Homo sapiens: one gene and its partners. The protein of the gene in region 1 purifies or fractionates together with the protein of each later gene. This does not show direct contact. Each region holds a gene or a part of one and is shown on either strand. Other genes may lie near its edges.

Region 1 (7,554 bases):
ATTCTTGGAATCTTGGTTCTACCTCTTGCTAACCATGTGACCTTGCCCCAGTTTCCTAATAAGTAAACCAAAGATGGTAATCACAGAACACAGGCCCAGTGTTGCTGAAGGATCAGAGGAGTTAATACATATACAGCACTCAGTACAATATTGAGACACAGTGACACTCGGCCAATGTTAGCTCTTATTATTATTATACTTTTTTTTTTGAGACAGGATTTCTCTCTGTTTCCCAGGCTGGAGTGCAGTGGTATGATCATAGCTCACTGTTGCCTCAACATCCTGGGCTCAAGCAATCTTCCTGTCTCAGTTTCCCAAGTAGCTAGGACTACAGGTATGCACCACCACACCTGGCTAATTTTTTTACTTTCTATTTTGTAAAGATGGGGTCTCACTATGTTGCCCAAGCTGTGTTATTGTTACTATATCTCTATTTCACTGGAGCAAATATTGACCCCCCTCATAGCACACATTCAATACATTACTTCCACAAACAATATCTTCTCTTTTCTCAAGGATGTCAATACACCCTTCTCCACAATCAGTAAGATAGGAAGATAAGGAAAGAGGGGATGAGGAAAGGAAGACTCATACTGTACTAAGCTTGCTGACCACAGGCATGAGCTCCAAACACTGCCTGCCCGGACGGCTGGTACTCCCAGGAGAAGGGACTATTCTAGCTGTGATGACGCTCCTAACAGAACGATTTTAGGAATCTTACGGGAAAGGAGTGGGGTGTGCTCTGTGCGGGGGAGCTCACCACCATTAGAGGTGTGCATCTTGCCAGTGGAAGGAGTCCTGGACTGGCAGTTGTCTCCCGACTCTTCATCTAGCTTCATCTCTTGACTAAGTATCACTTCCTCAGATGTCCTCTCTGCCCCCAATCTAAATTAGCTCTCACCTGTCATTCTCTCTTATAATTTCTTCTTTGCTCTTATTAGCCTTTATTCAACTTTCAATGACGGACATTTTGTGTGTTTATTTGTTCAGCGTCTTCTCTCCCAGTAGATTATTTAGCTGTAGAGGGCAGAGATTAAGTGTGTTTTATTGACCAAGTATAATCGCTTAGCTTTCACTTTTTAATCTGTTAAATGAGGTTGGTAATACTGCTTTTGCCCACCTCACTGAGCTGTGAAATTAAAAATGTAATACACAGGAAACTTCTTTGTAAATCATAGAACATGGTGCACATTGAATTATGCTTAGCGCCATGTCTATTGGAACGTACATCACAAACTGAACACTTGTGAAATGAGCTCCTAGACAGATTAGCATTCTGTTAAATGAGATAATAGGGAAACATGCTCAGAACAGGACACACACTGTGAAAGCTCTTATTGTGTAAGGTCAAAAATAGCAGCCCCGACCTCTAAAACTACCATATCCATGGAGTCCACACACAGTCGGCTGGAAAGAGTTAAATAGGAGCTCCCACAGCCAAAGATGTCTAAACACATGTGGGAGTGAGTAACCCAGCGCCAGTGTGTTCTGGAGCTGGGGGAGGTTTTGCAGGTCACTTTTCAAGCAAGATGTTCCTTTCCTACCAAGAGGCAAGGATGGTCAACATCTATCTTCCCCTGCTCCACGTCAGTGAGACTGCAGAGGGATGGAAGACGATTCCAGAAAAATGCCTGCTGCCGCCAGCATTTCACAGACAGCAAACGGGAGGAGGGTGAAACTCCTTAAATTCAAAAATTGCACTGATATGTGCATTACTATATGTGGAACCGGGGGAGAGCTGGAGCTGGAGAGATACAGTTGATGAATACCCCAGTGTTGGGATGCGACTCCTCTGCTTTTCATAGACAAACCAGAAACATGAAATTATCCATCCTGACAGCCGGTGTGGTGTGGGAATCACAGGCTGGTACCCACAGACCAATGGTGATAACCAGGAAGATAAAAAGACAAAGATCAGATTGGACACTGATGGGTCTTGACTCTTTATCCAATTTGCCAGTCTGTGTCTTTTAATTGAAGCATTTAGTCCATTTACATTTAAGGTTAATATTGTTAAGTGTGAAGGTTAATATTGTTATGTGTGAATTTGATCCACATTATGATGTTAGCTGGTTATTTTGCTTGTTAGTTGATGCAGTTTCTTCCTAGCATTGATGGTCTTTACAATTTGGCATGTTTTTGCAGTGGCTGGTACCAGTTGTTCCTCTCCACGTTTAGTGCTTCCTTCAGGAGCTCTTGTAGGGCAGGCCTGGTGGTGACAAAATCTCTCAGCATTTGCTTGTTTGTAAAGGATTTTATTTCTCCCTCACTTATGAAGCTTAGTTTGGCTGGATATGAAATTCTGGGTTGAAAATTCTTTTCTTTAAGAGCATTGAATATTGGCCACCACTCTCTTCTGGCTTATAGAGTTTCTGCCGAGAGATCCGCTGTTAGTCTGATGGGCTTCCCTTTGTGGGTAACCCGACCTTTCTCTCTGGCTGCCCTTAACATATTTTCCTTCATTTCAACTTTGGCGAATCTGACAATTATGTGTCTTGGAGTTGCTCTTCTCGAGGAGTATCTTTGTGGCGTTCTCTGTATTTCCTGAATTTGAATGTTGGCCTGCCTTGCTTGGTTGGGGAAGTTCTCCTGGATAATATTCTGAAGAGTGTTTTCCATCTTGGTTCCATTCTCCCCGTCACTTTCAGGTACACCAATCAGAGGTAGATTTGGTCTTTTCACATAGTCTCATATTTCTTGGAGGCTTTGTTCGTTTCTTTTTATTCTTTTTTCTCTAAACTTCTCTTCTCGCTTCATTTCATTCATTTGATCTTCCATCACTGATACCCTTTCTTCCAGTTGATCGAATCGGCTACTGAAGCTTGTGCATTCATCACGTAGTTCTCGTGCCATGGTTTTCAGCTCCATCAGGTCATTTAAGGACTTCTCTACAGTGAGAACACTGGGACACAGGAAGGGGAACATCACACACCGGGGCCTGTTGTGGGGTGGGGGGAGGGGGGAGGGATAGCATTAGGAGATATGCCTAATGCTAAAGGACGAGTTAATGGGTGCAGCACACCAACATGGCACATGTATACATATGTAACTAACCTGCACATTGTGCACATGTACCCTAGAACTTGAAGTATAATAATAAAAAAAAAAAAAGAAAAGAAAAAGATCAGATTGGACCAAAACAGACACATTTTCTTCACTACTCCATTATCTGGTTTTGTCCTATTTCTTAGGGAGGCAAGATAAGGCGTTGGCATCCTAACTGCAGTGGGTATTCCTTGTTGTTTGATGTGCATATACTTACAGTTTAATGACTCCTTAGTAAGCTCTGTGTGATCTGCAGGTTTTAGGGTGTCCATGGTTCTCCAAGGACACCAGATTCTCTGTGGTGGAGGACAGCCTCGTTTTTCCCAGGCCCTCAGCTCAGGCCTAAGCGAGGCTTGATGTTGTCTTTATACAGTAGTGACTGCCTTGAACAGTAACAAAGGTGAGCAATCGGTATAGGATAGGTAAGGCAGCAGGAAAAGGAGGGATAGGTAACTGATCAAAGGAAATAGAAATAGGCCTTGGGATGGGGGCAGGCAGGTGGGACGCCTCAGGGACCTGAGAGGGACAAAGCACCACGGCAGCTGCAAATGAAGATGGGAACACAGACCCAGGCTGAGAACATGGAGAAGCGAAGGTCCCACATGATGACACAGGAGGAGATGCGCTGGTGGTCACACCTTTCAGGGAGGTGAGTATGAAGAAGAGGAGTACAAACCTGTCAAAATTTTATTTTTAATCTTTTTTTTTTTTTTGAGAATAATTCTCACTCTTGTCCCCCAGGCTGGAGTGCAATGGTGCGATCTCGGCTCACTGCAACCTCCGCCTCCCAGGTTCAAGCGATTCTCCTGCCTCAGCCTCCCAAGCAGCTGGGATTACAGGCGCCTGCCACCACACCTGGCTAATTTTTGTGTCTTTTTTTTTTTTTAGCAGAGACGGGATTTCATCATATTGGCCAGGCTTATTTTTAATCTTAATTCATTAAATGAATGATTGCTACCAGTGTAATTGTTTTATTTTAGGCCCGGAAAAATGGAGGTTAACTTCATTGTCATCTGTCATGGAACTGTGGCCACAAAAAGAGGCGTCTCTCAGGCCAGGTACTGTAGGAGTCCGCCCCCTGCTCCATCTGTATTTTTTCCACTCACAGTCCACCTGGCATGAGAAAGGTGTTGGGATAAAGGTGAGCCCAGGGCACTGTGGGTGCCTCCGAGAGAATCTGAGCTGGGGGAGTCAGGGTCCTTCGAGAGCCTGCCATTAATATGGAGGGGGAAAGCCAGGGCTAGGCTGCGATGGGTGCTGTTGGTGGGGGGGCCAGGCCTGCACTCTGTACGTGAGGGTGAAGCTGGAGAAGGAAGCAGCCTAGAGAGGACCCGGAGCAGGGCAAACACAGATGGAGAAGCTGAGGGCAAGGAAGGGAATGACGTGGGACCCCACCCGTTGTCGGGGGCAGGCTCTGCTCTCCAGGAACAGGTAACACAGTCACTTAGAGAACAGTCACTACTTGCCCTGCCCTCCTGAGTCCCGGGAGGAAAGTGCTCGCCCATTCCTGACCTGTGACACGCTCACTGCGAAGGCAGGTTATTAGAAGAGTCCCATGAAAGTAAACAGGGTATTAAAACGGATCCTTAAAAATGAAAGTGCAGGCTGAAAGTTGGTAGTGTGGGAGGTAGAGGGTGTGTGTTCTTGTGCAGAGGAGCGTGGGGTTTGCAGAGGAGACAGGGGAGCTTTGTGTACCCGGAGCAATGAACAAGCGGCGACTTCTCTACCCCTCAGGGTGGCTCCACGGTCCCAGCGACATGCAGGGGCTCCTCTTCTCCACTCTTCTGCTTGCTGGCCTGGCACAGGTAAGTCCTCTCCCCCGACTCTTTCCCTTCCGGAGGCTATGGCCATCCTTAGTTCTTCAGGCCCAAAACTAAACAAAACGAAGATGGAGGAAGAGGGAGGATCAATGGCTTGTGGAACTACTTCATGAGAAATAGGAAGCCATTTTTCTTTCCAAATAAAGTTCTGTGTTCGTTCATGAGCTTCATGAAAGAAATGTAAAACATTTCTCCCTTTCAGGTAATGGCACCGAAGCCTCCTTTCGCTATGTTTGAACAGCGCCACGCTTTCCTATATATTTTTATAGCAGAGCCTAAGGCACAGCCTGGCACAGTGCGGGAAACAGTGTCTCTCCATGCCAGCTCCAGGCGGAGGCTCAACTTTCCATTGCTGTTTGCAAAATGTGCAAAGAGCCCCTGGAAAAACGAATTTTGACAGCGACTTTTTCCAGTTAAGTCTGTCCTTCTTTGAAAGGGGCACTTTGGAATAAACATTTACATTTTTAAAACATTCTCTTACTTTGTCTTTTCTCAGTCCATGTGTTTCTCACTTCCTGAAAGGGAAGCAGTCCATGGAGGCTTGGAAATATTTCAAGCAACAGACCAAAGGGAAGTTTAACTTACTATGAGCAATTCATTGCCTTAGTCTTTTTAAATAAGAAGATGAAAACAAGGTGACTTAATTGTTGATTTATTTACACGGTAGACAGGAGACAGAGCTTTTGAAATCTGGTGATTTAGGAAACATGGGTGTGTCTGTGAGTTAGTAGTTGATTGGGGCCATAAGTAGTAGATACATCTTAGAAAACAAGGAATTGCAAATTGTTATACCATATAGAGAGAGATTTACGATTTCAAAAGAATCATGACAAGAATGTCAGTGGTCCAGGTCATTGCTGCTGTTCTGTGGAGGGGCTCACTCCCCTGTCTGTGTGCCTCCTATTCCACTGTTCTTGAGAAAAAGCCTGTCATTGTGGATTGAGAGCAGCTAGATGTTCTTAGACAGCAGGTATTCCAACACAGAGAGATGTGTACAAAATAAACAACAACAAACACAGAAAGGTGTTACACAAAGAGCGGTAAAAATGGATTATTTTGTGCTTAACTTTGCTTTTATGAATTCATAAATTCATGAAATAGCTGATAATACCTAGCATTTACTGAATAGCTGCTATATGCCAAATACTGTGCTGGGTGCTTTATTTATTTATTTATTTATTTATTTAGAGACAGAGCCTTGCTCTGTCGTTCCAGGCTGGAGTGCAGTGGTGCAGTCTTGGGTCACTGCAACCTCCACCTCCTGGGTTCAAGCGATTGTTGTGCCTCAGCCTCCCAAGTAGCTGAGATTACAGGCCTACACCACCATGCCTTGCCAATTTTTGTATTTTAGTAGAGATAGGGTTTTGCCCTGTTGGCCAAGCTGGTCTTGAACTCCTGACCTCAAGTGATCCGCCCACCTCGGCCTCCCAAAGTGTTGGGATTACAGGTGTGAGCCACCACCTCCGGCCCAAGGGTGCTTTAGTTATTATCTTAATTATCAAAACAACTTTACAAGGTGGTCATTATTAATCCCATATTACAGAGGAGATCAAATGATGGGAAGTTCTGTAAGATCACAGAGCTGTTGCAAAGCTCGGATCTGTTGTCAAAATGCTTATTCTTTCTATTGCACCATTCTAGTGATGCTTATTGTCCTGAAATTTTGCTGTTGAAAACAATCAAAATATGCCTGAGGAAAAGTGAAAAATATAAGATTCTTTATATTTACCCACATATTGACTATGTCCAGGCCTCTTCATTTCTTCCTGTATTTCTAAGTTACTATCATAACAGAAGATCTTCAGACCGAAGATCCTCCTTTAGTATTTCTTGTGAGGCAGATCAGCTAGCAACAATTTCTCTTAGGTTTTGTTTACCCAGAAACGGTTTTTATTTCACCATCATGTTTGAAAGACAGTTTCACTGGCTATATAATTCTGGATTGACAGGATTTTTTTTTTTCTCCGTTTAACATTGTCTCTGGGCATCTTGTTCTTCTCCATCTCTCCCTCCTCCTCCTTCTTTTGATGAGAAGTCAGATCTCAGTTTTATTGTACTTCTGTATGTAATGCTTCCCCCTTTTCTCAGTCTACTGTTATGATTTTCTTTATTTTGAGATGGAATCACCCTCTGTTGCCTAGGCTGGAGTGCAGTGGCGTGTCTTGGCTCACTGCAACCTCTGCCTTCTGGGTTCAAGCGATTCTCCTGTCTCAGCCTCCTGAGTAGCTGGGACTACAGGTGCACGCCACCACACCTGGCTAAGTTTTTGTATTTTTAGTAGAGATGGGGTTTTGCCATGTTGGCCAGGCTAGTCTTGAACTCCCCGCCTCAAGTGATCCACCTGCCTCGGCATCCCAAAGTGCTGGGATTACAGGCTATTTCAGCTTCATTTTTGAAAGATGGTTTCACTGGCCATATAATTCTGGGTTGACAGGTTGTTTTTTTTTCCTTTCAACATTGTCTTTGCACATCTTCTTCTCAATCTCTTCCTCCTCCTCCGTCTTTTGATGAGAAGTCAGATCTCATTTTTCATGTAATTCAGTATGTAATGCTTTTCTCAGTCTACTGTTATGATTTTCTCTTTATCCTTGGATTTCAACAGTGTTACCTTTTGACCTCAGAGATTATCTGGAAATGCTTCAAAATTGGAAAGTTAAAGAGGCATCCGGGGGCAGTTTTGGGAGTGTGC
Region 2 (6,429 bases), on another chromosome or scaffold:
CGGCGTGACTGAGGAGTGGGTGGTGGGGACCAGGCCAAGTGGGACTTGGGGGCTATGAGGAGCCCAGGGAGGAGGCCATGGCCCCCCGGAACGGAGCTCCCAGAGCCTGCAGCCTCTCACCCGCAGCCAGCTTTCTTCTTGCAGTGTCTTCATTCCCAGATGAGGAACGGGCAGGCCCTGCGGTTTGTGAGTGGCTGTTTCCTCCAGCGAAGCCCCCAAAGATGCTTTTCCCCTGCCTGAGGGTCCCTGCTTGTACATCCTTTGAATCACTGAAGAGGGCCCATAGGTTGGACCCCTGAAACCCACCTGGTCACGTCTTCAGGTTCTCGCCCAAGGCAGGGCCCTCCCCTCCTCCCCCAAGCGGCACGTGAGCCCTGTTCAGGGACAGCAGAGCCACCAGCCCAGGACCGGACCTGCTGCCTCTGCGGACCTCGGCAGCCCTGGTCACTCCCGGCTCTGGCAGGACAGGTGCAAACTCAGTGGTAAAGGTCCGTCCTGATTAATGAGACAAACCCACGCCCGTTCTCCTCCTGATTACCTACAATGGTCAATTTTATTACAAAGAACTGTATCAAAATATACAAGTCTGTTTAAGAACAACCAAGAAATGCAGCTGTTTAAGGGACAAATGAGAATCAACCGTTAGAGAGCAGGCAGCCTCTCCCCGCCGCTGTCCACTGCAGGAGACGGCATCCTCAGGGCCACATTTTCCACGGGACATCCTTCTGAATAATTTAAAGGGTAAGTCCGGCACATTACAGGTCTTCGCGGGAGGGCAGCTGTGTCGGGCTTTCTCCTTCTGTGGCTTCTGTCAGAAAACAAGCATAGGTCGTCAAGGCTGAGCACAAAGGGCCCTGGGGATGAGGCCTTTCCCAGGACAGCAGCGCATGTGCAGGGCCTGCCCGTCCAGTCCTGGCTCAAAGCCCCGGACGCAGCCATCCAAGGGCAGCTCGGAGACCCCCGTTTCCCACAAAGCAGATGAGAGATGAGGCAGACGGCATTTCAGAGCCCCCACGCTGCCGTGGGTGTGGAGGATGCAGAGTTGGGAGCGGCAAGGGGTTCCTTGCGGCCTGGCAGAATGGGAGCCTGAACAATGGTTGTGGCGGGAGGAGAAAGAGGGGACCGAGGGTGGGGGAGGTAGGAGAAAGAGGGGACTGAGGGTGGTACGGGGAGGGAGGGGCAAGAGGGGACCGAGGGTGGGGGGGAGGGAGGAGAATGAGGGGACGGGGGGGAGGGAGGGGCAAGAGGGGACCCGGGGTGGGGGGAGGGAGGGGCAAGAGGGGACCCGGGGTGGGGGGAGGGAGGGGCAAGAGGGGACCCGGGGTGGGGGGAGGGAGGGGCAAGAGGGGGGGAGGGAGGGGCAAGAGGGGACCCGGGGTGGGGGGAGGGAGGGGCAAGAGGGGACCCAGGGTGGTGGGAGGGAGGGGCAAGAGGGGACCGAGGGTGGGGGGAGGGAGGGGCAAGAGGCAGGGCCAGCCCAGGGCAGAGGGGACCGAGGGGGTAGCAGGCAGCCTTGTCTTCTGGCCTGTCCGTCTCTGCTAACCCCTCAGTTCTGTCTTGCTGTTGCTGTTTACTACGATGCTTCTAGATGTGGAATTGCTTTTATTTGTCCTGCTCAGGAAACAGCTTCTGGAATCTGAATCGTGCCTTATTCATTCTGAAAAACCCTTAGCCAATATCTCCTTGAACACTGCTTCTTTCCCACTCTCTATATTCTAGACTTCTGTGAGGACTGTCACGGGCAGATTTATGTCCCCCAAAACACGCTGAAGTCTTTACTCCCAGTACCTGTGATTGTGACCTTGTTTGGAAATAGGGTCTTTACCACTGGCCAGGTTAACATGAGGGCATTAGTGACTGGTGTCCTTACAAAGAGGGGAGGTTTGGACAGAGACAGACACCCGCATGGAGACCACGTGAAGACACGGGGAGCAGGTGGCATCCCCAGGCGAGGACAGAGGCCCGGAACAGACGCGCCCACCCAGCCTCCCAAGGAAGCAGCCTGCTTGCGTCTGGGCCTCTGACTTCTGGCTCCTGTGAGCGGCACATTTCTGTTGCTGGAGCCCTAAGTTCCTGGTTCTTGGTAAGGTAGCCCCAGGAAACAGGTGTGGGGGACCCGCTTGCCCTCCACCACTTCCTGCCTGTCCCTGTCTCTGCGGCACCCTGGGCAGCTTCCCCGGATGACTTTTCCAGCTCTTTAGCTGCCTCTTCTCCTGCGTCTGCTCCTCTGCTCATCGCCCGCTGAGGTCTGAGCTTCAGAGACTTCCCCCTTCATCGCCTGAACTTCCGTTTGAGCTGTGAACCTGGGGCTTCATCCTCAGGAAGCCAGTACCTCTCGCGCAAGCGTGCCCACACAGAGATGTCATGCACCTGTCTTCCGGGAATCCCCCTCTCACCATCTCAAGGCCACCATCTGTGTGGATTTCAGACCAAGCAGCCAGTCTACGTGCAAGCCCTGCGGCCCAGGGGAGGGCAGCCTGTGTGGAGGGCAGCCGTGCCACTCACCAGCCTCTGCCGGCGGCACACAGGCATCTTCCGTTTCTTCGAAGCCGTCAGGACACACACAGACGTAGCTCCCTGGAGTATTGTAGCAGTTTTCGTTTTTCCTCACACAGGTTTTTTCTGCTAGTGAGCACTCGTCCACATCTAAAATGAAAAGACTCCGTTTTAATAATTACTTTGCTCAGCAGACGCGCAGCGGATTATGAAATTCATTCATTCAGATTCATTCACATAAAGAAAGCACAACGATGACAAACGTCACGTTACAGAAAGGAGCAAAGATCAGGAAAGGCTTCGAGAGGGAAGAATTTCACGTCTCCAAGTTGGGCCCTCAACTGGTAGAAAATGCAGAGAAGAGACCTCCAGGTGGGGCCGGAAGGCCAGCATGCGCCCAGGAAGCCCACTTTCTTTTCCTTTTTTTTTTTTTTTTGAGGCGGAGTCTCGCTCTGTCGCCCAGGCTGGAGTGCGGTGGCGCGATCTCCTCTCACTGCAAGCTCCGCCTCCCGGGTTCACGCCATTCTGCTGCCTCAGCCCCCCGAGTAGCTGGGACTACAGGCGCCCGCCACCACGCCCGACTAATTTTTTGTATTTTTAGTAGAGATGGGGTTTCACCGTGTTAGCCAGGATGGTCTCGATCTCCTGACCTCGTGATCCCCCCGCCTCAGCCTCCCAAAGTGCTGGATTACAGGCATGAACCATGGCGCCTGCCCAGGAAACCCACTTTCTCCACCGGGTTCCATCCACGCCCAGGCTCACCCAGGCAGCCCACAACCATGGCAGGCCTGGACTTAAGCCTCGGGGCAATCGCCACCCAGGAGCTGGAGGGAGAGCAGAGGCGGTGGACCTGGGGAACGAGGCCACCGGCGAGAGGCTGGTGCAGCAGCGCCATCCACACCAGGGTCGGCCATGCAGAGCCCGTCCCCCACCCCCACTGCTTCTGTGTCTCACGTGGACCTCAGGGCGAGTGCACAGTGACCCTGGGGGAGCCACGTCTGCAGGACGGGTCTCAACTGCTTCCCATCCCTGGCAGTACCTGCTGGGGCCATTCACATCATGGTCACTTGGGAAGGGTCCACCAGCGTCCAGCACAGACCCCGTCACTGACCTGCACACTGTCCGTGCTCCCTCGCGTAGCCAGAGATACACTCTTTACAGTTTCCTGGGCCTTCCCCTGTGCAGCCCACACAGCTGGAGTCACACTCTGCAACAGGGAGCCAGCGTCAGACCCCGACATGCACAAGGCACCAGTGCCCGTCAGACCCCGACATGCACAAGGCACCGGTGCCGCCAGGATTTGGGTTTTCTCCTCATTCATCACCAAGTGACTTTATAACGATCTGTCTCTGTCTCCCGGCAAAAGCACAGACTCGCGTCCTGCTGTGCAGCAGGTGCTCCCGGAGAGCCATGGTGCAGACCACCTGGCTTGGAACTCTTTGGGAGAAACTGGGTGCTACAGAGATTCTAGAAACAAACCCACCTCCAGCTCGGTGACCATTGGTTTGCCAGCCTGCCAGGAGCTTCCTAAGAATAACCAGAGCCTCTCGCATGGCTTCCAGTATTAGTGGCTCACTGAGGGACCCACTGTCTGCACTCCCAACAGTGAAAACTGCCTGGGGCTGTCACACACACGGGGCAGAGGCGGCCTCCTCCCTGCTGCTGGGACTGGGGATCAGCACAACTTTTCTGGGGCACTATGGCTCTAAAAGACACATTCCCTTGACTGAGCGATTTGGAAATTAATCCACAGAAAATCATAAGGAATGTGAAAAGTTTACCTTCAAGTGTTCACAGTTTATAAGTTGAAAAACTGTTATGACGTAAACGTCCAGCAACAGACATTGTTGTAAAAGTATGAAATAATGGCTCCAAAATCATTAGCGTGACAGAGAAACCACAGGACGCAGAGACGTTCGCAACAAGCTGCTGAGTGGAAAACACCCGACAGGCGCTGCGGAAAGTCACGCAGGGCACGTTGCGGGGGCGCTGGGGGGGCACGAGCAGTGGAGGCACCAGCAGGGTGCGCTCTCCAGGGAGTTCCTGGGTTTTTAACTGTTTTCTTTTCATCTGACTTGAATTTTCTGATTTTCCTGCAGCAAATACCTATGACTTACTTTGCCACACTAAGTGTTCTCAGGGCAGGCAGGATGTATGGAAGTGACACTAAGAAGCCATAAATGAATGTTGACAAAGGCAGCAACGAAACCCGGCAGGCCCCGGAGTGCAGACCCGCCCGCCTGGCCCACCTTCGCACGTGTAGGAGCCGTTGGCGTTCTTACAGAACTGCGCAGCGCTGCAGGGAGGCGGCTCGGCCGCACACTCGTCCACATCTGGAACAGAGCGGCACAGCTGTGAGCGGCCCAGGACAGCCCGGCCAGGGAGCGGGGAAGGACCGATCATGGCCTGACACAGCCCGTGGCCAGGGCCGGCTGGGGAAGGGCAGGGAGGAGGGCAGCCCCTGAGGAGGAATCATCTCAAATGCCATCCTCGGAGGCCCCACGCGGCAGGGGAGGGGATGAGGCGATGGCCAGGCCCTGTCCTTAGACACTCAGTGCCAACCGGGGCAGGCGCCCCATGAGGATGGCGACACATTGTGTGAGAGTGAGACAGTGAGTGCCCCCACACCTCACGCCCCCACCTCACGCCCCCACACCTCACGCCCCACCTCATGCTCCCCCACACCTCACGCCCCCCACACCCCAAGCCCCACACCTCACGCCCCCACCTCACGCCCCCACACTTCACGCCCCCCTGCCTCCCGCCCCCATGCCTCACACCCCCCACGCCTTACGCCCCCATCTCACACCCCCCACGCCTCACGCAGGCGCCCTCCTCCACCCCCGGGCCGCTCCTCACCCACACAGGCGCCCTCGTCCAGCACCCAGCCCACTTCACACTCGCCGCAGTCTCTGTTGGTCAGGCCCGAGCACGTCTTGCAGGACTCGTCACAGGCTGGAAGGCAAAGGCGGGCCTGGGTACAAACCCCACTCTCAGGTACCAGCTTGGGGACAAGGCTCGTTTAAAAGTGAGGAATTTAAGAGGGAAAAGCAACACGGGATTTTCAGTGCCCATGAATTTAAAATTCTCAGCAAACCAGGACTCCAAGGAATTTTTAATAACCTGGAGAGAAGGCAGCTATCCATACTCTGGAGCTGTAGCCTGGCTGGGTGTGCGTGTTCCGGCCACGGATCCATGCGTGGCCCACGCCACGCCAACATCCAAGAGACAGACAGCAAGGCGGGTAAGAATCGGAGAGGCCGGTCCTGACTGCTGAGGGGCGTAAGAATCGGAGAGGCCGGTCCTGACTATCGATCCACGGGTCTGTCTGCCCAGAATAGCCTAGGGGCTGCCGGCCAACCACACACTCACGTCCGAGACACTCAGAGTTTTCCTACATATCAGTGACAACCAGGGAGAAAACGTCCTTTGGAAAGATGCCACTCATAACGGCCTGCAGGGATTTGACAGATGCTGCTCTCTGGGCCGGTGCGGGGCCCACACGGCACCTCCAGGACCTGTGCACTGCATGGCCCATCACAACTCAAGGTCGGGGTGGACCTTGAACTAGAGAGAAAGGTGAGTAGCTTCTCCCTTCTGAGGGCTGTTACGGGACAGGAAGTGCCCGACAACCTCTGCCTCTATCCTCTGATGTTTTCATTCATCCTTCTGGGCCCTCGAAGCTTCCTTGGACATCTGGGGTTAAAGATCAACAGGCCCCTGTTCCCATCTAGGCAGGCAGCTCCAGCAAGGGGCTCTTGTCATCCCGCCTCAACCCCGGGGCCAGCCCAGGCGTAGCCCGTACCTGTGCAGATGCTGTGGGTCTCGTTCCGGAGCGAGCTGAAGTAGCCGTCCATGCAGTCAGTGCACAGCGGGCCCTGGTACCCCATGTGGCACCGGCAGGACCCGTCGCCCTGTCTGCTCCCATCTCCG
Region 3 (7,025 bases), on another chromosome or scaffold:
CCTGCCTCAGCCTCCCGAGTAGCTGGGACTACAGGCGCCCGCCACCACGCCAGGCTAATGTTTTTTTTGTGTGTGTATTTTTAGTAGAGACAGGGTTTCACGGTGTTACCAAGGATGGTCTCAATCTCCTGACCTCCTGATCTGCCCATCTTGGCCTCCCAAAGTGCTGGGATTACAGGCGTGAGCCACCACACCCGGCTGGGGCTTCCCTTTCAAAGCCATCCATCATCTCGTTTCCTTGTTGATTTTTTTAAGTAATAAATATTTATCTTAATTAGGACAACCAATGAATTTGCCATGTAATCAACACTGTCAGGTTCTTACCTATTAACAAGATCTTACTTAAATCTATAAGGCCCTTTAACACCAAGGTCTTTAAGGAGTTAGAATCTTTTAAAAATAATATTTAAATTTATTGTTTCACATTAGTTTGAATAAAGCACAAGCCAAGATGGTTTAAATATCATTTGCAGATGTCCAAGCTTCTTTACAATTACAGGTCATGGGCATCATCAACCTAGTCCTTGACTTGCAGCTAAAAAAGGCAAAAGGTCTGTGTGAAGTGACAGAAGAGCACACCCTACTCATGTCATGAGCAAGGAATCAAAGTCGAAGAACAGTAACAGTCTTGACATCAGCACTGTAAGAATTACTCTGCAGTAAACTCCAACCCAGAATGGGGAAGAATACTGAATTAGCTGAGCACATTCTGGACACAATTCTGACCAATTTCAGTCTCATGATCTCTGTTGGAGCAGGTTTCATTCTCCAATTCTCTTTTACAGAACAGCAGAACTCGAGCCTTCATAAAAGTGATTAACGGCCTTTCCGCTTCTTCATTTTTCCTCCAGCCACCTTGTTCCTGACACCAATAGCACCCTCTGTGTCATCATTATCTCCAGCATCCTCTCGCGAGCGTTTCTTCTTTTCTCCATGCTCCCTTAACTCCTGCAAGAAAAAAAGAGAGGATGGGATTGAAAATGAATTACTGGCACTGAAGGTTACTCATTCTAGTCCCCTCTCCTTAAGATCAAGTATCAAGTAACTTGCTGATGCCTGACATTAGCAAAGGAACAAGACCCAACTCCAAATATACAAAGATGTTAACCTTATTAGTAATCAAAACGTGAACACTAAAGTAAGGTTTTATTTTCACATGGCAGATTGGCAAAGACTTAAGAGAAGGGTAATCCCCAGTATTGGCCAAGGTGTAGAAAAATTCACATATACTCTCATTTATAGTGCAATCTGCTATAGCTTTTCTTGGGGCGGGGGACAATTTGGCATTCTGTATGAATTCAAATTTTAACTGTGTATGTCCCTTGGCCCAACAAGTGTACTTCTAGGAATTTATTCTAAGGAAGTAAATATGCAAAGCTGTACAAAGTAGGGTGTTTAACACTGTACCAAAGTAGAAAGAAACTGGAAAAAAGCGTAAGCATCCATGAATGTAAGTATTTCATACACATGATGGAATTCTTTGTAGCCATTAAGAAACGATCACATGAATCTGTATTTGTTGAAACAGAAAAATGTTAATCCTATATAATTAGATAAAGTCTAATTATGGCTAAAGAAAGAAAAATAGCCAAATGTTATCAATGGTTTTCTGTGGGGAATGGTTTACCTTTTCACTTACTACTTTAATCCTTTCTGTATTTTTTGAATTTTTTTCCCAATGCACATGTAATACTTTTACAAACAAAAAAATCCCATGTGGACAGAATAAAAACCAAATGTGCACCTCAGCTACTCCAAAAACAAACTATGGGCAAAGTTTCTCCATCCCTCAGACCAGAACTCCAGAAAGCAGGCAGCACTTCCAATGGTTTTCCTCTAGAATCTTCTCATCACCACTATTACTGTTACTACTACTTACAGGGTGAGTATCCCTTATCTGAAATGCTTGGGACCAGCAGTGTTTCGGACTTCAGATTTTTTCTAATTCTAGAATATTTGCAGATACATATGAGCTATCTTGGGGATGGGGCTCAACTCTAAACACAAAATTCACTTGTTTCATATATACCTTATATATGAAGGTAATTTTACACAATATTTTTAATTGTCTGAAGGTAATTTTACATCATATTTTTAATATTTTTGTGCATTAAAAACATTTTGACTGTGTCTTGATAGCAACCTGTCACACGAGGTCAGGCATGGAATTTTCCACTTGCGGCAATCCTTTTCGCACTCAAAAAATTTTGGATTGCTGGGCACAATGGCTCAAGCCTGTAATCCCAGCACTTTGGGAGGCCGAGGCGGGGGGATTACCTGAGGTCAGAAGTTCGCCTGACCAAAATGGAGAAACCCCATCTCTACTAAAAATACAAAATTAGCTGGGCATGGTGGCACATGCCTGTAATCGGGAGGCTGAGGCAGGAGAATCGCTTGAACCCGGGAGGCGGAGGTTGTGGTGAGCCGAGATTGCACCATTCGCTCCAGCCTGGGCAACAAGAGCAAAACTCCATCTCAAAAAAAAAAAAAAAAAGAAAAAAGAAAAGTTTTGGATCTTGGTTTTGGATTTCAAATTTTTGGATTAGGTATGATCAACCCCTACTAGTAACTATGTAGTTTATATTGGCTTCTCTGGTGCTCATAAAACCCCATAAGGTATTCAGGCAAGTGTTATTCCCAATTTACAGGTGAGAAACTGATTCTGATTCTGAGAAATCAGGCAAATTTCCCAAGCTCACACAGTTCACAGCTGGATCTTCTGACCTCAAGTCTGATGAACTATCTCACCACGTGCGACACATGAACAGGTGCTGTGAATGTGTGAATGTCAGAATGAGGCCAAACCTTGATTCAACCATTTGGTTGTATGGTCTAATGCAAATTACCTACCATCTCTGCACCTTAGTTTGCTCGTCTTAAATTTGGAATAAAATAATACCCAGCTTCTGCAGTTTAGTATGAGGGTTAATATAATAAAGTGGCACACAGTTAACATTGTTTGCACAGACACTGGTGAGAAAAGAAAGATGCATACCATTCGGGCAAACCTTTGGGCTTCAGCGACGCGTTCTGTCAGCATCATAACCTCATCATCCTGTGTTGGAAAACCTGGTAGTTTCTTCCCAATTAAGTGTTCTATGCGCTGGAAGAGTTCCACATCATACCTGAGGAAGGAAAACTGCACAGCTCTGGTTGCCTGGTAACGCAAATGCCTGTCCATTCCCAAACTATTATTATATGATACAACGCAATAGGAACCATAGGTTTAAACAATATTGAACATATTATTTCTTTTCTAAATATGGGTTAAGTGCAATCTCTGTGCATAGCCCATTAGAAAATCACTCAAGGGAGGCCAGGCATGGTGGCTTGCACCTGTAATCCCAACGCTTTGGGAGGTCAAAGCAGGAGAATCACTTGAGACCAGGAGTTCCAGACCAGCCTGGACAACACAGTGAGATGCCATCTCTATAAAAAATTAAAAATTAGCCAACCGTGGTGGCATGTGCCTGTAATCCCAGCCATTCAGGAGACTGAGGTATGAGGACTACTTGAGCCCAGGAGTTTGAAGCTGCAGTGAGCTATGATCAAGTCACTGCACTCCAGCCTGGTCAACAGAGTGAAACCTTGCTGCTTAAAAAAAGAAAAAGAAACAAAAATCGGCCAGGCAGGTGGCTTGTGCCTGTAATCCCAGCACTATGAGAGGCTAAGGCAGGTGGATCGCTTGAGCTCAGGAGTTCAAGACCAGCCTGGCCAACATGACAAAACCCTATCTCTACTAAAAATATTTTTTAAAAAGCCAGGTGTGCTGGCATGCACCTGTGGTCCCAGCTACTTGGGAAGCTATGGTGAGGTAGGAGGATTGCTTGAGCCCAGGGGGTGGAAGGTGCACTTAGCCAAGACTGCACCACTGCACTCCAGCCTAGGCGACAGAGCGAGACAAATACAAAAAAAAAAAGGAAAGGAGGGAGGGAGAAAATCCCTCAAGGTATTTATTCACAGAACAGCCTTGGGTACATAAAAATTTGTTTCTTTAAAAAAAACAATTGGAAATAGTTATTCTAATACTTTCTGAGTTGACACAAAGGCAATTGCTCTCCAGCTCTAGGTACCATTCTACATGCCAAATACTATACTAGATCTTTTACATATATAATCTCCAATTTTCACCAAAACCCTGCTAGATAGGTATTATTATTCCCATCTTTCAACTCCTTCATCCTGGTTTTCAGTATGAAAGTGATTAGTGTAGTAAATGGTAGTGTCAGGTTCTCAGCCAGTGGCTTGAAAGTTCTGCTCTTTTCTCTACATTGCTCGGCCCTAAAGCTGATTTACTTACTGTGTGACAAAAGTAATAGCCTTTCCGGAGCGCCCAGCTCTAGCTGTTCGACCTACTCGATGGATGTAATCCTAAAACAAAAAGGGTAAATAAATTCAAGTTATATGGATTATAAGTTTAAAAAAAACTACATATGCAAAGTCCTGCTGCAAAACCTTTGAAAGAAAATAGATTCATTTCGTAACATGGAGAAAATAAATGGCCGGGGCAATTTGTTGAGACAAATCTACTTCATCTTTTTTGTTCTCCTTGCAGCACAAAATTGATCCAATGCTTTCCCTTCTTTCACAGACAGATAAATCTACAAAGCATATCTACATGGTCGCAGGCTGCATGGTATTTTAAAAAACAGCACTGGATCTCGAGGCAGAGCTGGATTACAGCTCTGATCCTTCCCATCTGCCAGTTACACAATTACCTGCAAATCACATAACCTCTCTGAACCTTGGTTTCTATCTAGTGAACAGGAATAGAAATACATGCCCATATTACAGAGTTGTTATGAAAATCAAATGAGACAGCATCTTGTCTACAGCAGTTAAATACAAAGACAAGAGACACAACAGTTCTCATCCAGGGGTGATTCTGCCATCCTCAAGGGACACTGGTAATGTCTGGAAATATTTCTGATTATCACAGGTGGAAGACTGTGTGATGCTGTTATCTACTGGGTAAAGGCCAGGAATGCTACTAGGAATCCTTCAACTCAAAGAACAACCCCCACAACAAGGAATTCGAAAGCTTAAAATGTTAATAGTGCCAAGGCTGAGAAACCTTGAGATACACTAAGCACTACAAGCTGTAGGCCGGGCACGGTGGCTCACGCCTGTAATCCCAGCACTTTGGGAGGCCGAGGTGGGCAGATCACGAGGTCAGGAGATCAAGACCGTCCTGACTAACACGGTGAAACCCCATCTCTACTAAAAATACTAGCCGGGCGTGGTGGTGGGCGCCTGTAGTCCCAGCTACTCGGGAGGCTGAGGCAGGAGAATGGCGTGAACCCAGGAGGCAGAGCATGCAGTGAGCCAAGATTGCGCCACTGCACTCCAGACTGGGTGCAGACTCCACCTCAGAAAACTCAGAGCGAGACTCCGCCTCAAAAAAACTACAAGCTGTCATTCTCAAGAAATGACAGTGACAAGATCAGTATGTGGCGCACCAGCCCCTTCTATGAGCATCTAATAACTCTCCTTGGCTACCTCTTTCATATGTACTAATGTTACATACACAGGCCTGTGCAAGATGATGTGAATGAACTAACCAAGGGCTTTCTTGTTTTTTGATACTTAATTAACCAGGAACAAAATAACTGCTGTAACTAAGGAAAGACAGAAGACAGTCCATTAAGAAATACACTTTAGGACTAGAAAGGTAAGTTAGCAATAGGACTCACCTTGGAATGGGTAGGAATGTCAAAGTTGACAACCACATCTACATGAGGTATGTCCAAACCTCGGCTGGCAACGTCAGTTGCTAGAAGAATGGAACGGGCCTTGGCCTTAAACTTATTAAGGGATCCTAGGCGCTTACTCTGAGGTAATGAAAAAGAAATGTTGGAAAACTTAACCTATGTTTTGGAATACAAAACACAAAATAGACAAACACGAGAACAAACAGACATAAATTTTTTAAAGGTTTTTCCCCCTAAGTTTTGAATGGGGCTTCACAGGTCAAAACAGAAATATGGAAGCAACAAAAAATTAAAAAAATATATATGATACAAAATAAGGGTAGTTTGACACGATAGAAAGGTAACTGGGAAATAATTTATTAATGTTTTTAGAGGCCAGAGTCATTATTACCACTAGGGCTGAATAAATCAACTCAACAGCTTGCAAACCAGACAGGTACATATGAAATATTCTAATGGGAGCCTCTCGCTACCCTGAAAGGAGAAAGTAAGTATCTAGAGCAACACTTCAAAGCCCATAAAATTACAACAATTATGGAAACAGGCATCGGTGCCCTATGGCCTTATTGTACAAACCTACTGTTAGGAGGTTTATCTCGCTCACGCCACCAGTGCATGGCTGATGATGATGATGAATCCTTACCTGACTCATTTGTCCATGGAGGGGGATGGCAGTGAAGCCAAGATTTCGCAGTAGCAAAGCTGTTCTCTGGGTATTATTACAGGTGCTGCAGAATATCATAAAGGAGTTTCCAGCCAATTCATTTAGAATATAAACCAGGTAGGTATCCTAAGTTACAAACCCAAAACAATATATGTCATTGAACCTGGGAGACAGGATTGGAGACCTGGCATATACATAAGGTAAAGACTAAGCCTATAGTCGCTTTTCAATTATCCAGACCTCCAGCTGCCAGCTTTGCATTCCTTAACCAGCATTATCATCTCTGTGAACCACATATTCCCCACTTAGCCTTAAGGCAGGCAGGAGATCTGTACTCAGCAAACAGGAGAAGTCCTTATATCAAAGCACAAAACCAGGGGCTTCATCCTAAATAAAAGCCACATAATAAGCAGACAAAGGAAAAATTACCTCAAGGATGGGGATGGGAAGGAATTATATGATTACATCATGACCTCAGTATTGTGATTTAATGTGTTGTGAATTCCTGGCATGTCTGGCTTATCGGTGATAATATAAGCACGATATGCACTCTAAAGCAAACAGACAGGATGCCAATCTGCATTACAGCTCTTACCTAATCAAGAGTTGACACATTTTCAGATGCTTTGGTGAAAAGAAGAGGGAGAGGC

Evidence for each region.
Region 2: the proteins of CCN6 (region 1) and CRELD2 purify together in Homo sapiens (affinity purification with mass spectrometry; 3 studies listed by BioGRID and IntAct, with this or other methods). This does not show direct contact.
Region 3: the proteins of CCN6 (region 1) and DDX47 purify together in Homo sapiens (affinity purification with mass spectrometry; 3 studies listed by BioGRID and IntAct, with this or other methods). This does not show direct contact.

The regions. Positions count from the first base shown.
Region 1 is NC_000006.12:112,049,556-112,057,109, forward strand, and holds the start of CCN6 (cellular communication network factor 6 isoform 1 precursor), read left to right. Parts: upstream 1-4,548; 5' UTR 4,549-4,779; coding exon of another isoform or gene 4,780-4,802; coding exon 4,803-4,850; intron 4,851-7,554. UniProt on the Homo sapiens protein: Plays a role in mitochondrial electron transport and mitochondrial respiration. Through its regulation of the mitochondrial function may play a role in normal postnatal skeletal growth and cartilage homeostasis.
Region 2 is NC_000022.11:49,921,634-49,928,062, reverse strand, and holds the end of CRELD2 (protein disulfide isomerase CRELD2 isoform b precursor), read right to left. Parts: coding exon 6,302-6,429; intron 6,193-6,301; coding exon of another isoform or gene 6,158-6,192; exon of another isoform or gene 6,069-6,157; intron 5,770-6,068; coding exon of another isoform or gene 5,620-5,769; intron 5,452-5,619; coding exon 5,356-5,451; intron 4,830-5,355; coding exon 4,746-4,829; exon of another isoform or gene 4,603-4,745; intron 3,704-4,602; coding exon 3,608-3,703; intron 2,647-3,607; coding exon 2,506-2,646; coding exon of another isoform or gene 2,393-2,505; exon of another isoform or gene 1,495-2,392; intron 809-1,494; coding exon 756-808; 3' UTR 526-755; downstream 1-525. UniProt on the Homo sapiens protein: Protein disulfide isomerase. Might play a role in the unfolded protein response. May regulate transport of alpha4-beta2 neuronal acetylcholine receptor.
Region 3 is NC_000012.12:12,823,346-12,830,370, reverse strand, and holds the end of DDX47 (probable ATP-dependent RNA helicase DDX47), read right to left. Parts: intron 6,502-7,025; coding exon 6,355-6,501; intron 5,832-6,354; coding exon 5,694-5,831; intron 4,372-5,693; coding exon 4,301-4,371; intron 3,126-4,300; coding exon 2,996-3,125; intron 949-2,995; coding exon 817-948; 3' UTR 390-816; downstream 1-389. UniProt on the Homo sapiens protein: Required for efficient ribosome biogenesis. May have a role in mRNA splicing. Involved in apoptosis.